4 linked regions of the Homo sapiens genome follow. The protein of the gene in region 2 purifies or fractionates together with the protein of the main gene of each other region. This does not show direct contact. Each region holds a gene or a part of one and is shown on either strand. Other genes may lie near its edges. The genes, in order: AXL, KCNG4, TMEM201 and ATF6.

Region 1 (2,617 bases), on a different chromosome or scaffold from region 2:
TGGAGGCCCTTTGTGGGTCCGTGATGATCGGAGGTGTTCTGTGCCTGTGTTTCTATGTCAGTCTGAACGTTCGGGGTTGTGAGTACCTGTTGTACTCTACATGTCTCTTGAGTATTTGTGTCACTTGACTCTAGGTCTGTGTCTCTTCCTATTCGTGGCGGGTATCTGCCTGAGCATGTTTGTAAATATGCTTGTGTCTGTGTAATTCTGTGTGTCTGTGTTACTCTATGCGTCTGAGTTTCAGTCTCTGTATTTGTGACCAGGTCCTCCTGGGTGTGTCCATTAATTCATGTGTCTGTTAGTTTGCGGCGGAACAGGTGTGTGTGTGTGTGTGTGTGTCTGTGATCCTGGATCTGTATGCCAGTTCCTCACTGGGGGTTTCTGAGAACCTGCATCTCTTTGCTTGTATGTCTTTTTGTCTATCTGTGTGTTCATTTCTACCCTCTCTAGTGAGGACAGAATTCCAAGACCCTACCAAGCCCTTCTTTTTTCTGATGGGGGAACTGAATTGCCAGGGAATGGGGCCACATCACAGCTAAAAGGAGACAAGAGGAGACAGAAGCTCGTTGATATACAAAGTTTTATGTGACCTGAGCCCCTCTGGAGGCACCAGAGTCCACACTCTGTACTCAGAAGGTGAGGGATTGGCTCACGGGGGCAACATGGCCCGAAAGGTGGGAGATCGTCCATCCCCTGCGGGAAAGGAGGCATCCCTAATGCATTGCACAGGCTTGAAGGGGGCACACCCCCACAGTTGGGGAGGAGGAAGCAATGATAGCTAAGAAGGAGAGGGGCACCCCAAAGAATACTACAGTATAGGGTTAGAACCTTGAAATTGCACCTAATAGTCTAGACCTGTGGACCTTTAGAATCTTAGAAACTTAGAACATTTGAGTCTTAGAACTACAGTGCCTAGAACTATAAGATTTTAGAAATGTGGATTCTTGGACTCTTAACCATGGTCCTAGAGAGGCAGAATGCAGCAAAGAACCTAAAGGTGTCCAACATTAGAAATTATTAGAACTTTGGTGTCTAGTTAGTCACAACTGAGTGTGAGAGTCTTATAACTTAGATGCTTAGGATCCGGAATCTTGGACCAATGGAATCTAGAGTGCCTTGAAACAGAACAGACCGTTAGAATCTTATTTAATCATCTAGAATCTTGGAGCATCTGATCTAGAATCTTAGACACAGAGAATCTAAGATCTTAGAGTAAGTCTTAGAATATCACATCTTAGAACACCGGACCTTAGAAACTCCATCTTTAGACTCTTGGAACTTTTGAATTGCAGATTCTAGAGCTTTCGACCCTTAGGATCTAGGATCTTATACAAGAGAATCTATTATCATAAAGCCTCAGAAACTATAATTGATCATCATTAGAATCTTAGAACTTGAGAAGATAACATTTTGAAGCCTTATGATCTAGAGCCTTACAGCCAGAGAATCTAGACTCTCAGAGCCTTAGAACATCACATTTTAGAATCCTAGGCCTTAGAACCTCCATGTCTAGAACTATAGAATCTTTAGAATCTATAATCTTACATTTTAAGGACTCTGAACTCTAGAAGAATAAACATCTAGACTCATAGAGCCTTAGCTCCTAAAATCAGAATCTTAGAACTTTAGAACCTAAAACCTTGAGGCTTTATCAAAAATGTTAGAACCAGAAAATCTAAAACCACATAATGTCAGAGCTTTAGAACAGTAGGTCTTAAGGTTGAGTGCAGTGGCTCATGCCTGTAATCTCAGCACTTTGGGAGGCTGAGGTGGGCAGATCACTTGAGGTCAGGAGTTTTAGACCAGCCTGGCCAACATGGTGAAACCCTGTCTCTACTAAAAATATAAAAATTAGCCGGGTGTGGTGGCACACACCTGTAATCCCAGCTACTTGGGAGGCCAAGGCAGGAAAATCACTTGAACTCGGTAGGTGAAGGTTGCAGTGAGGCGAGATTGCACCACTGCACTCCAGCCTGGGTGACACAGTGAGACTCTATCGCAAAAAAAAAAAAAAAAAAAAAAAAAAAAAAAGTAGGCCTTAGAACCTTAGCACTTTAATAGAATTAGAGACTTTGGAATTTCAGGTCCTTAGAACCAAAGACTCACAGCATCTTTGAAACCTAGAACCTTTGAATCTAGACTCTTTAAACCTTGGACTCTAGAGTCTTGGAATGTTAACACCTGGGAGGGCTTCAGATATTGCAATCCAACCCCTTCCTTTTACAGATGGTGATGCTACTGCTTTCAAGGTGATGCTACTGCACAGAGAAGGGGAGGGACCTGTCTGGGATGGAGGTGGGATAGGTAGGAAGACAGGGCTGCAAGTGGGGATAAGGCGTGGGGTGGGAAAGTGGGAAGGTGGAGTTTTCCCCAGTGGCAGTGCTTAGCTTGGATCCTGAGAGGGAGTACCAGGTGGAGGGTTGTCTCAGGCACCATCCTCCTGCCCTGGGGCTGCTGGGGAGCCCCTATCAGCAGGCTGAGCGGGGCTAGGGGTTGTGGAAGGGCAGAGGACATAGCGTCCAGCAGGATGGACCTCAGCCGCAGTGAGGCAGCTACAGGAATCCTTAGGGTCTGGCTGGGTTGGGGGGTCAGCTCCTCCTGCAGCTCCAGGGGGTTC
Region 2 (3,500 bases):
CATTCGCCCTGCGGGGAGAAGAGGCAACAACGCGGGGTAGAGAGTGGACTTGCAACTGTGCTGGAAATCGGGGGACGACTTCATGCCCATGAGCTTTGTGCTGTAAACTTAGTCGTCCACCAGAACCTCCTTTTACACAGTTTTCCAGTTGTGGCTGGGTACACAGCAGATCGGCTAGGTCAGAGACTGTTCTTTCTGGCTTCCCTTGCCGCTAGGTGTGGCCAAATATGACTAAGTCCTCACCTCCGGACTGGAAACAGAAGTGATGCAAACCACCTCTGGATCTAACTCTTGCACACTCTTTCCATCCTTCCTGTGAGCCGGGACAGCACAAATGGGCCTGCAACCCAGCTAAGAAGAGAGGACTGGACCAGCGCCCCAGGGGAGGAGGGAACATCAAGGCGGGAGAATCTGGAATAAGAGTTGTCGATACTCACCTACATCCCTCACCTTGGGACTATTGCACAAGAGAAAAATTTGGCTTAAAACTATTCTAGTTTGGGGTCTCTTTGTTATAGCTGCCAGCCTGTACCTTAATGATGTTAAGTACCTTGGGGGACCACGCACTGCTCTCCTGCTGTCACTCAAGCCACATAGCAATGTTATGAGCAGGCAGTGTGACCCCATTTGATGGCCCAGGAAGTTGGTCACAGCAGTGAAGTGACTCGCCTGAGCTCACATACATAGGAGGCGGTACCAGGGTCTCTTAGATACTGTTGGCTATTTTGTAACTTTGTTGTTTACCACCCCTCATTCATTTAGCTAACAGAAATGTATGGAGGGCCCACTTTGTGCCAGGCATGGTTCTAACCCCGGGCATTCTGTGACTAGACAAACAGATATCGTTTCTGATGGCTTGAAGGCTGGTGGGGCAGAGAGGGTTCCTGAATCCCCAAGACAGCCCTTGGGATGTGTGATTGCTGCCATCGACATGCGGGATTCTAGCTCAGCAGTTCCAGCTGGGCGGGGGCCGTTCTGAGTTCTGTATTTTGTTCTTCCTCCCCAGTAGTTCAGGGTAGTTCCACCAGTCCTTCTGCCACTCAAAGTGTGGACCTTGAGCCAAAAGCATCAGCCTCCCCGAGGAGCTTGTTAGAAACACAGCATCTCAGGCCCCACCCCATCCCACGGAATCATATTCTGCAGTTAACAAGGTCTCCAGGTGACTCATGCAAACTGAAGTTTGACAGGCACTGTTCTAGTGTGTGGTTCTCAAGCTTGGCTGCATGTTGGAATCACCTGGGGGTTCCTTGAAACATTCTGTTGCTTGGGCAGGGTCCTCCCAAGATTCTAATTTAATTAATGTAGGTTTGAGCTGCACAGTAGAATTTTCCAGAACCCCCATGGATAATTCAAATGTGGAGCCAGGGTAGAAAACTTTGCTATACATATTTACACACACACACACACACACACACACACACACACACAGATATGTATATTTGATGGATGAATGGATGAATGGCCAAAGCAACTTCTCTGTGTAAAAGGCAAGGTGTTGACAACCACAGTTTTCTCTGGATTAAAATGCTCTGAAATGGAAAAAGAAATTATTTCCAGTGTCCACAGAAATCATAAATTGAAATGTTCTTTATGCCTGGCTGCTGGAGAAAGAGAAAGAGACTGAACCACGACAGTCTCTATTTGCCTGTCCAGGGCAGGGCACCTTTCTGGCTGGACTTCTGTGTGGACTATTGCAGGGGTGGGAGTCAGAGGCAGCACTGCCAAGGGGTGGAGTCCAGAGTGTTCCAGCCTCTTCTTTGGAAACTGAAGCACAGAGAGGGTCAGTGGCCAGTGCGAAGCCACACAGCAAGTTTTTAGCAAGATTGGAGAATCAGGAACTTTCTGTGCCCTACCAGCCTTCAAGCCCCCCAGAAACCATGTCTGCTTGTCTAGTTACAATACTCTCAGAGCCTAGCGCAGTTTCAAATCCCATCTCTTCCACTTACTTGGGCAAATCACTTGTCTCCTCTGGACTTTCAGTTGTCTAACCTCTGGAGGGCTGTCATGATGAATGGAAATTATGCACATAAAGCCATTAACAGGACCGTGCACCTAGCAGGCACAGGATGCGCTGTAGCCATTTTAACCGAACTATACATTGGTCATGGACCACAGTCTCCTGGTCAGTGTAAGGGTAGCAATACCTTCTTCCTGTTGCTGGATATTACAGGAAGATGAGGGGATTCTCCAGCCCACCGAGAGGTCTTTGCCATGACTGCCCAGGGTTTGCTTCAGGATCCTGAAGGGCTCAGAAGTTTTGGGTTCTGATTCCCCAGCCCTGCTACAAACTTGCTGTGTGACTTTGCAGCGGCCACTGGCCCTCTCTGTGCTTCAGTTTCCAATGCAGAGTTTGGAACAGAATTGGTATTTCTGAAAGCTGATTTGGAAACCCTGGCACCAGAAGCCCCCAGGGTGCTTGTTGTAAATGCAGATTCTTGGGCCCCCATCACAAAATCCAAACCTTAGGGTGGGGCCCGGGAATCTACATTTTGGTAACTCCCCCCATTCACTCTGAGGCACCTGGAAGGTTTTCAGACTCTGAGCTAGATTCTGCCTACAAGGCCTCTCTCTTTGCAGACATCCTGGGAGTTTCTCCCTAGGCTTAAAATACTTATAGCCTGGGAATAACTTTTCCATACTGATGACCCGATAGCTCAGGAAGGTGACTCCTGAGAGGCCGAGAAGGCGCTGCCAGGTCCTCCTCCTGCCTGTGGGGCTGGCATTTGGACACTCAAGCCATGCACACCGGCTCCTGCCCTCCCACGGCCTGGCCCTCTGGCCACCTCTCTGGACTGCAGCAAGGGCTCTGCTCTGCCGCGTCACTGCACCTGCATCAGGCTCTGCTGTGCATCCTAAATCCAGCCTCCCAGCACTGGTTCCTCAGAAATGCTGGCATTGGGGCAGGGGGTGTTTATGGAGTGTGGGCAGAGGAAATAACTCCCAGCTTAGCAAACATTCGAAGAAAAGAAAAAAAGGGGAAAGAAGGAAAGAAAAAAGTTTTCCTTTCTCCCTTTGTGGAAGTTCTGTGCTTAAACCCAGAAAGTTCCGGGTCCTAGGAACCCCCTGGGCCCTGGGCACACCGGGATGGTTGGTCACCCTATTCCTAGCCCTTGCCACAGGCAGAGCGAGGTGTGTTCTGGCTCCTTCCTGCAATGAAGAAGAGCAAGCGTCAGCCTGGAGAAGGCCCAGGGTGTGAATGGTGAAACAACACCGATGAATCCCACAGGCATGATGTGGAGCAAAGCAAGCCGGGTGTGTGTTTCCACTTGTGGGAAGCTCGAGAACAGGCAGCCTCATCTAGGGTGCACAAAGTGATCAGAACAGTGGCTGCCTCTGGGTAGTGTAGGGATGGCCTGTGAAGGGCCACGAGGGAGCTTTCTGGGGTCACAGAAATATTCTATACTCACAGGGGAGAGGCTGACACGGGTGCATCCGTTTATTAAATTCTACACCTAGGATTTGTGCATTTCAGTGTATGTACATTTCACCTGTAAAACTGT
Region 3 (3,595 bases), on a different chromosome or scaffold from region 2:
GCGCCCCAGGGAGCCTCCAGATTGAAAGGGGCCTCCTGTGCTCCAGAGAGAGACAGTCCCAGGATGTGAGAGCCAAGGAGGCTGAGGGGAGGGAGCAAGTGACAGCTGCCCAGCCTGGGGCCAACCCTCTCTGGTGGAGAGGACAGTGGCCCTCGCTGGCTACACGTGTGGTGACAGGTGGGGCCTCGGGATAATCCCAGCCCAGACACTGGGGGATCTATGCTCTGGGCCCCCCTCTACCCACCTCATTGGTTGTGGGACACTGGGGGACTGGGGAGGGGTGGGCAGAGAGACCGCCACTGCCCAAAAAAGCCCCCCAGTTCCGGAAATCCAGGAACAATGTGGGTGACAGGCAGCAGCTGTGGGAGCCCTGGGGCCCCGGCTTTGCTGCTCCGACTCTCCACCTCTCCCCCAGGGGCCACCTCCAGCTCGAGGACACCGCTTGAGCCCCTGCCAGAGTGGGCAGCCACTCCCTGCACAGACGGCCCCCCGTCCACAGGACCAGAGAGCACGGCCCTCTGGCCTTTCATCCTGAGGCGCTGCTCAGAGAAAGGAGGACGGAGCCCCAGGAAGTTCCTGTACTCTCAGCCTCAGTGTCCACATCTGTGAAGTGGGGGCAACCACAGCACCCCCGGCTTCTGCATGCTGCAAGGACGCAGTGACACAAGACAGAAAGGTGCTGTGCTCTGCAAAGAGCCAGCTCTGTCGCTAACCCATCGGGCTGGCCAGGGGCCTGAGGGGGAGGCTGGGCCCTGGGAAGCAGGGCTCCCGCTTCTGACACTACTGCTGCTGCCCGGCCCTCCCCTCCACCCCCTTCTCCTGACCAGGGGCATATGAAGGGAGATGTGTGATCACCTGTCAGCTGGGGACAAAAGCACCTCCCTCACAAGGGACTGCTCGTGGGACGCACTTAACAGTGACTGGCCTAGAGTATGTACGCAAAAAAGCCAAGTTACATGGAGTGGGGGGAGGCTTGGGAGAGAAGGGGAGATGGGACCAGGCCCTGCGGGGAAGGCCCAGGGCCCACAGGGGCAGCTGGGATCTCCCCCAGCAGCCTCGGCCCACACCCTTCTCACCCCACACCCCCTGCCCCAGCACAGGCCCAAGCCCTCACAGAGGACAAGGACCGCTGCATCTTGTCAACAGCATGGAGACAGCGGGCAAGGCCTGCAGACCAGCGACGAAACGGAGCCAGCCAGCTGGGCAGGCAGTATGGCAACAGGCATGGCCTTGGAGAGCAGCTCTGCCTTCTAGGGCCGCAGTCTCATCCCTCACCTGTCAAAAGGGGCTGCTGAGCATCCCTGCCCCAGGAGAGGCCACTGTGAGGATCCTACAGGAGAATGCAGGGAGGCGCTCAGTGCTCGGCATTAGGACAGCGCCACCGGGCGCCGACTACATGAACAGCCAGGGAAGGAGACTCGCTCTGGGGCATGTGGAGACCTGCTCTGCTGCGGTGCCCGCATCTAGCACTCCCGGGCAACTAAGCACGTGGACTTCCCTGTGCTAATTACTAGCTGTTGTACAGGCTTCTTTGTAACTGTGCATGGGGGCGTGTCCTGATGGGTGAAGACCTGCTTGTGTGACCCCCCACCCCTGAGCCGGACAAGGCTCTGCACCCAACTGACTTTGGGTGACAGGCTTCCTATCCCCACGGAAGGCCCCTCAGCTCTCTTACCCTGTTTGAAAAGGAAGGTCAACCCTTGAGCCTGCCTAGGGGACCAATGACAGCTGAGCAGGGGCTGTGGCTTCTGTCCAGGGTGCCTGCCATGAAGCCCCGCCCACCCCAGGAAGTCATGTTTCCATTCTGAATCTCCTGCTCTGTTGCTAGGGAAATGGCTCCACTGATCTAGAATGAGGCGGCCCGGAAGAGGGGGGAGGCAAGGGATTAGCCCTTGTCCCTGGGGCCAGCAGCTCTAACTCCTGTCACTCTCAGCCCTGGGTAATCCCTGCTAGAGTTGGGGGTGGGCTCTCTGGTGGCCAGAGCAGCTGCCACCCACTTTGGCCAGGCGGGCCCTACCTGCCAGGGGGTCCTCTCCCACAGTGCCTTTGGGGGTGAGCCCTGAAAGGTCCCAAGAGGCAGGTAGGCCAGGGGTCGATGGGGAGCTGGGCATGAATTGCAGGTCCCCCAGGCACCAGCACGGCGGCGTCAGACACATGACCACATGTGAAACACTGTCCACAGCTCGGACGAGGTCCCCACGCAGGTGGGGGAAGTCCTGGCCCCTAGCCTATGCTTGCCTCTGCCCGGCCTGTTGAGGCAGCATCTGGGTCAATCTCTTCTGAGCCAGCCTAGGCTGGACCCTGTTTTTGCTCTGGGAGAAGCCCCCAAGTTTCCCTGATAAACCCCTCAGCCCACTTCTCTTCTGCAAGCCAACAACCTCCGTCCTTAACTTGACTCTGGGACAAACCACAGTTGGTGGGCAAGGTTTGAGGTAACGTGACAGAATGTCCCTGCAACACAAGCAAGAGAGGAGCTCGGGCCTGGAGGGGCTGCCCCTGCCCACAACGGTTCCAGCTCTGGGGGGACAGCAGCTGGCCCTATGGGTCCCATTTGATGGGTGGACACGAGGGCCTGGAGGCCACTATCTCGGCTCCTGCTAGCTCGATGCCGAGCCCCTGGGAAGCCTGAGGAAGCCCGGAGGGAGATGGGTCCCTAAGAAAAAGCTAGGGCAGCTGCATGCTCTGTACCTGCCCCGTCCACAAGCCCAACATACACACTGAGGGAAAACAAGACGGGCACGTGTCCTTAATGATGACACCACTCCAGAGCCCTGAGCACGGACATGTATTGAAACAAAGCTCCTGCGGGATGCCTCACTATTCCCTGCAGGTGGGAGGGGCTCTGTTCTAGGTGCGAGCCCAGCGCTGGGTCCTCAGCCTAGGAAAGCACCAGGTAGGGGGAACCTGCTAGAGGGGGCACTGGATGGGGCTTGGTCCCTGCCCTGGGGAGCTCAGTGGTTGTAGCAGGCTGGCCAGCTCCCAGAGTCTCTGCCCAGCCCTGGGAAATCATCACCTCCTCAGACAGGGGCCTTAGCACATTGCTCAGGACCTGGGACACTGTGTGCTGGCCCCAGTGCGGGGTTGGAAAGACTGTAAGAGTCAGGTTCCCTCAGGGGCCAGGGAGCCAGAGGCCAGCCTCCCAAGCAGCTCCTCACCTGCACTTCCCGCTTAAGTGGGCAACACCGTGTTTCATTCAACCAGAAGGACCAGAGAAGAGGCCTCCTGGGCTTCAGCGACAGAAGCATCAAAATGCAACTCAGAACTTAGCACTGCCAGGGCCTCCAGCCCATCTCCAAGCAAAACATACTTGAATCCACAGCAGCAACTCCAACATCAGGATGGAAAACGCCCCAATCCACCATTCTAGGGTCGCTCCTGGTGCGAGCGGAACATCCCATCAGTTAAGCAAGCACCACCCTAGGCTGGCAGAGATGCAAACGTGAGCAAGACAAGAACGACGACCTCCCAGGGCAGCTGGTGACAGATACCACAGGACAGAGGCCAATAAGCGGGGCATCTGCGGTCGCCCTGAAGCACAGCTGTGCTCACCAGCAGGGCAGACGGCAGAGGGAGGGGACCACCCAACGTATGCCCG
Region 4 (3,595 bases), on a different chromosome or scaffold from region 2:
ACCAACAAACTCAAAACTCTCTTCAGATGTTACTTCACCTCTTGCTGTTACTGCATTTCTCTACTGTATGTTACAGCAGAATTCCTTTTAAAAAATGTCCACGTTCACTGACTCTAGTTTTTTATTTCTCCTTGTCTCTTGAACCCAGTCCAGTCAGGTGCCACCACTCCACTGAAACTCCTGTTTTTTTTTTTTTTTTTTTTTTGAGACAGAGTCTTGCTCTGTTGCCCAGGCTAGAGTGCAATGGCACGATCTTGGCTCACTGTAACCTCCACCTCCTGGATTCAAGCGATTCCCGCCTCAGCTTCCTGAGTAGCTGAGATTACAGGCGCCTGCCACCATGCCCGGCTACTTTTTGTATTTTTTTTTTTTTGAGACGGAGTCTCTCTCTGTTACCCAGGCTGGAGTGCAGTGGCTCACTCGGCTCACTGCAAGCTCCACCTCCCAGGTTCACGCCATTCTTCTGCCTCAGCCTTCCGAGTAGCTGGGACTACAGGCACCTGCTACCACACCTGGCTAAATTTTTTTTTGTATTTTTAGTAGAGACGGGGTTTCACCGTGTTAGCCGGGATGGTCTTGATCTCCTGACCTCATGATCCGCCTGCCCACCTTGGCCTCCCAAAGTGCTGAGATTACAGGCGTCAGCCACTAATTTTTGTATTTTTAGTAGAGATGGGGTTTCACCATGCTGGCCAGGCTGGTCTCAAACTCCCGACCTCATGTGATCCACCCGCCTCGGCCTTCCAAAGTGCTGGGATTACAGGCGTGAGCCATCATGCCTGGCCTGAAACTGCTGTTTTTAAGGGCACTACTGATTTCCACATTGCTAAACCCAGTGACTGTGTCTGATCTTATTAAACTTATAAGGAGTAAATGAATAAATAAATGGGCAAGGTGGAGGTGAGGTGGGAAAGTTTGTTGAGTACACTAAAAATAGTAACTACCATTATTTACTACTGTTGAGGGAAATCTAATAGTGTGGGACTGGTGCAAAGGATATAGAAATAGGCAATAGGTTTTAGGATACTTTGGGGTAACTGATGCTAACAGTTTCTTATGGATTCTTTTGGAATGTTCTATAAATATACGAGTATATTTATCAACCCACCTTCAGTTATTTTTTTAACCACAGAAAAGTCAAAAGATCAGTACACTGATAAACGTGCGTTTTCCTTATCTAGATTTACCAACTGTTAACATCGTGCCACATTCACTTTATATCTTAATATTACCCACACTTTCCTCCTTTTTCACATCTGAAAGTGGGCTGCAGATAATATGAAACTCCTAAACACTTCACCATGTATTTCCTAAGAATGAGGAAATGTTTATTTTTAAAAAGCATCAATTCATTTTAATATGCTTTATACTTCAAAGCTAACATCACAGGGTTCTTTTTCACCTTCTTGCACCATATGCTTGTATTTCTCTTCTGCCGCTATGAGAATCCTGATTCCCAATAACATCCTTTGTTTTTATAGGCTCACTTCAGCAGCTCTGTTGGAAATAAACTGAAAGAGGGGCAAGGGCAGAAGCAGGGAGACGTTTTGGAGGCTGTTATAGCAATCCCCATGAGTTACAATAGTAGCAGTGGAGTAATGAGAAGTAGTTGGATTATGGATATGTACACACACACACACACACACACACACACACATACACACATATATATACATACATTTTAAAATTTTGAAATAGTTTGAAATCTATAGAAAAGTTTTAAGAACAGTGCAAAGAACTCTTGCATGCCTTTTACACAGACTCCTCAGTTGTTAAATTTTACTGCATTTACTCAATTTCTCTCTTTCTCCCTTTCAAGAGAGAGAGATGTGTTGACCCATCACCTTTAAATACTGTAGTGTATACTCTCTATCCTCCTGCCTCCCAAAAGAAGGCCACTTTCCTCTATTACTACCCTATATTTCTTCCAGTCAGGAGATAAACATTGATACAACAGTGTCATCCAATTCAAAGACACCATTCAAAGTTTGCCATCTGTTTCAATAATGATTTGCTTTTCTAGTCTAGGATTTTACTTGCAAACACTCATTGCTTTTACTTATCATGTCTCATCAGTGTCCTTTAATCTGGAACAGTTCTTTAGTCTTTTCCTGTCTCTAATGTCCTTGACAGTCTTAAAGAGTAGAAGTCTTTTATTCGACAAGATGATCCTAAACCACTAAGGGGTTCCTTGGAAAAATGACCAATTCCAGGGCTGGGAAAGTGCAGGGAAAGTGCAAAATAAGCCTGGAAAATCTTGGGCCAGAAATTCTCAGCAAATGAACATGTTAAAAAGAACAAAGGCCCCAATATGAATGAACTCCCCGTGGTCAAATCTGGGAAAATTTGGCATCAGAATAAAATGAGGGTATACATTATAGTGTAAATACTATGCGATGTTCCTATGCCATCATATCATCCTGTGATATAGTCACATGATCACTTGGTCAAGTTGGTATCTTCTAGGTTTCACCACTGTAAAGCCACTGCTTCCCATTTTGTATTTTATTGCTATTTTGGGGGAGATAATCTGACATAACACCAATATCCTTTTCTTATTAAACCTCTAACCACGAGCCCTAGCCTCATTAATAACCCCAATCTATATCAGTTACCACTCTAATGGTTGCCAAATGGTAACTATCTAACTCTATCATTCTGTCTATCATTCTATCATTGTTGATTGACATTGCACTATAAGAACCAACCTACCTACCTACCTTCCTTCCTTCCTTTGTTCCGTGATGAACTCATTGATTCCTTTTTTATTTGGTGGTTGGTAAACCGCTACTCTCATTTTATTCTGATGCTCAGATTTTCCCAGATTTGACCACTGAGAATTCATTCATATTGGGGCCTTTGTTCTTTTTGACATATTCCTGTCATTTGCTGAGAATTTCTGGCACAGCAAGATTTCCAGGCTTATTTTGCACTTTCCCTGCTGCAAGCCCTGGAATTGGTTATTTCTCCAAGGAACCCCTTAGTGGACTTCTGTTTGGTGGAAGATGGTATTTAGTATCCAAGATCTGGTCACCCAGTATTTTCATTGCTACTGGGATGTCATTGCTTCTAGGACCTCTTAGCAGACAGAACTAGGAAATATATATACATGTGTGTATATATATATATATGTGCATGTGTATATATGTATATATGCATAATACAAACATCTGCATATGTGTGTACATATATATATACTTCCACAGCTATCTGTATGTGTTATATTTTAAATGAGTTTATTTACTAATACTTCTAGTTCTAATCCAACATCTTAGGATTCTTTTAGTCTCCCGACTCTTTCCATGCTCTTAAATCCTTTCTCAGACTGTGAGAAATCTGACTCCAATTATTTTAGTAAAAGGCAAAAGATTCATTCGTTCTGAAGAGAAACCAGAGCATTCTAATTATTTTAGATATATTCAACCATTTGCTCAGTCACCTAACATATTTGTTCAGTATGACCACTCTCCTAACCACTCAGCCTGCGTTTTCCATCTGCTACTCCATTCCCCCTCCCACTGGGCTGGGGCATGCTGGCATCTTTGCTGGGCAATAGTCTCTCCCACACCATCCTATTTCCTTGGATATGAGGCAT

What was found.
Region 1: the proteins of KCNG4 (region 2) and AXL purify together in Homo sapiens (affinity purification with mass spectrometry; one large-scale study listed by BioGRID and IntAct). This does not show direct contact.
Region 3: the proteins of KCNG4 (region 2) and TMEM201 purify together in Homo sapiens (affinity purification with mass spectrometry; one large-scale study listed by BioGRID and IntAct). This does not show direct contact.
Region 4: the proteins of KCNG4 (region 2) and ATF6 purify together in Homo sapiens (affinity purification with mass spectrometry; one large-scale study listed by BioGRID and IntAct). This does not show direct contact.

What each region holds. Positions count from the first base shown.
Region 1 is NC_000019.10:41,259,713-41,262,329, reverse strand, and holds the end of AXL (tyrosine-protein kinase receptor UFO isoform 1 precursor), read right to left. Parts: coding exon 2,426-2,617; 3' UTR 564-2,425; downstream 1-563. UniProt on the Homo sapiens protein: Receptor tyrosine kinase that transduces signals from the extracellular matrix into the cytoplasm by binding growth factor GAS6 and which is thus regulating many physiological processes including cell survival, cell proliferation, migration and differentiation.
Region 2 is NC_000016.10:84,223,013-84,226,512, forward strand, and holds part of KCNG4 (voltage-gated potassium channel regulatory subunit KCNG4), read right to left. Parts: intron 9-3,500; coding exon 1-8. UniProt on the Homo sapiens protein: Regulatory subunit of the voltage-gated potassium (Kv) channel which, when coassembled with KCNB1, modulates the kinetics parameters of the heterotetrameric channel namely the time course of activation, deactivation and inactivation and on the voltage-dependence of activation.
Region 3 is NC_000001.11:9,591,828-9,595,422, reverse strand, and holds part of TMEM201 (transmembrane protein 201), read right to left. Parts: intron 1-3,595. UniProt on the Homo sapiens protein: Critical regulator of angiogenesis and endothelial cell (EC) migration. Promotes the migration of endothelial cells, which is essential for angiogenesis.
Region 4 is NC_000001.11:161,772,781-161,776,375, forward strand, and holds part of ATF6 (cyclic AMP-dependent transcription factor ATF-6 alpha), read left to right. Parts: intron 1-3,595.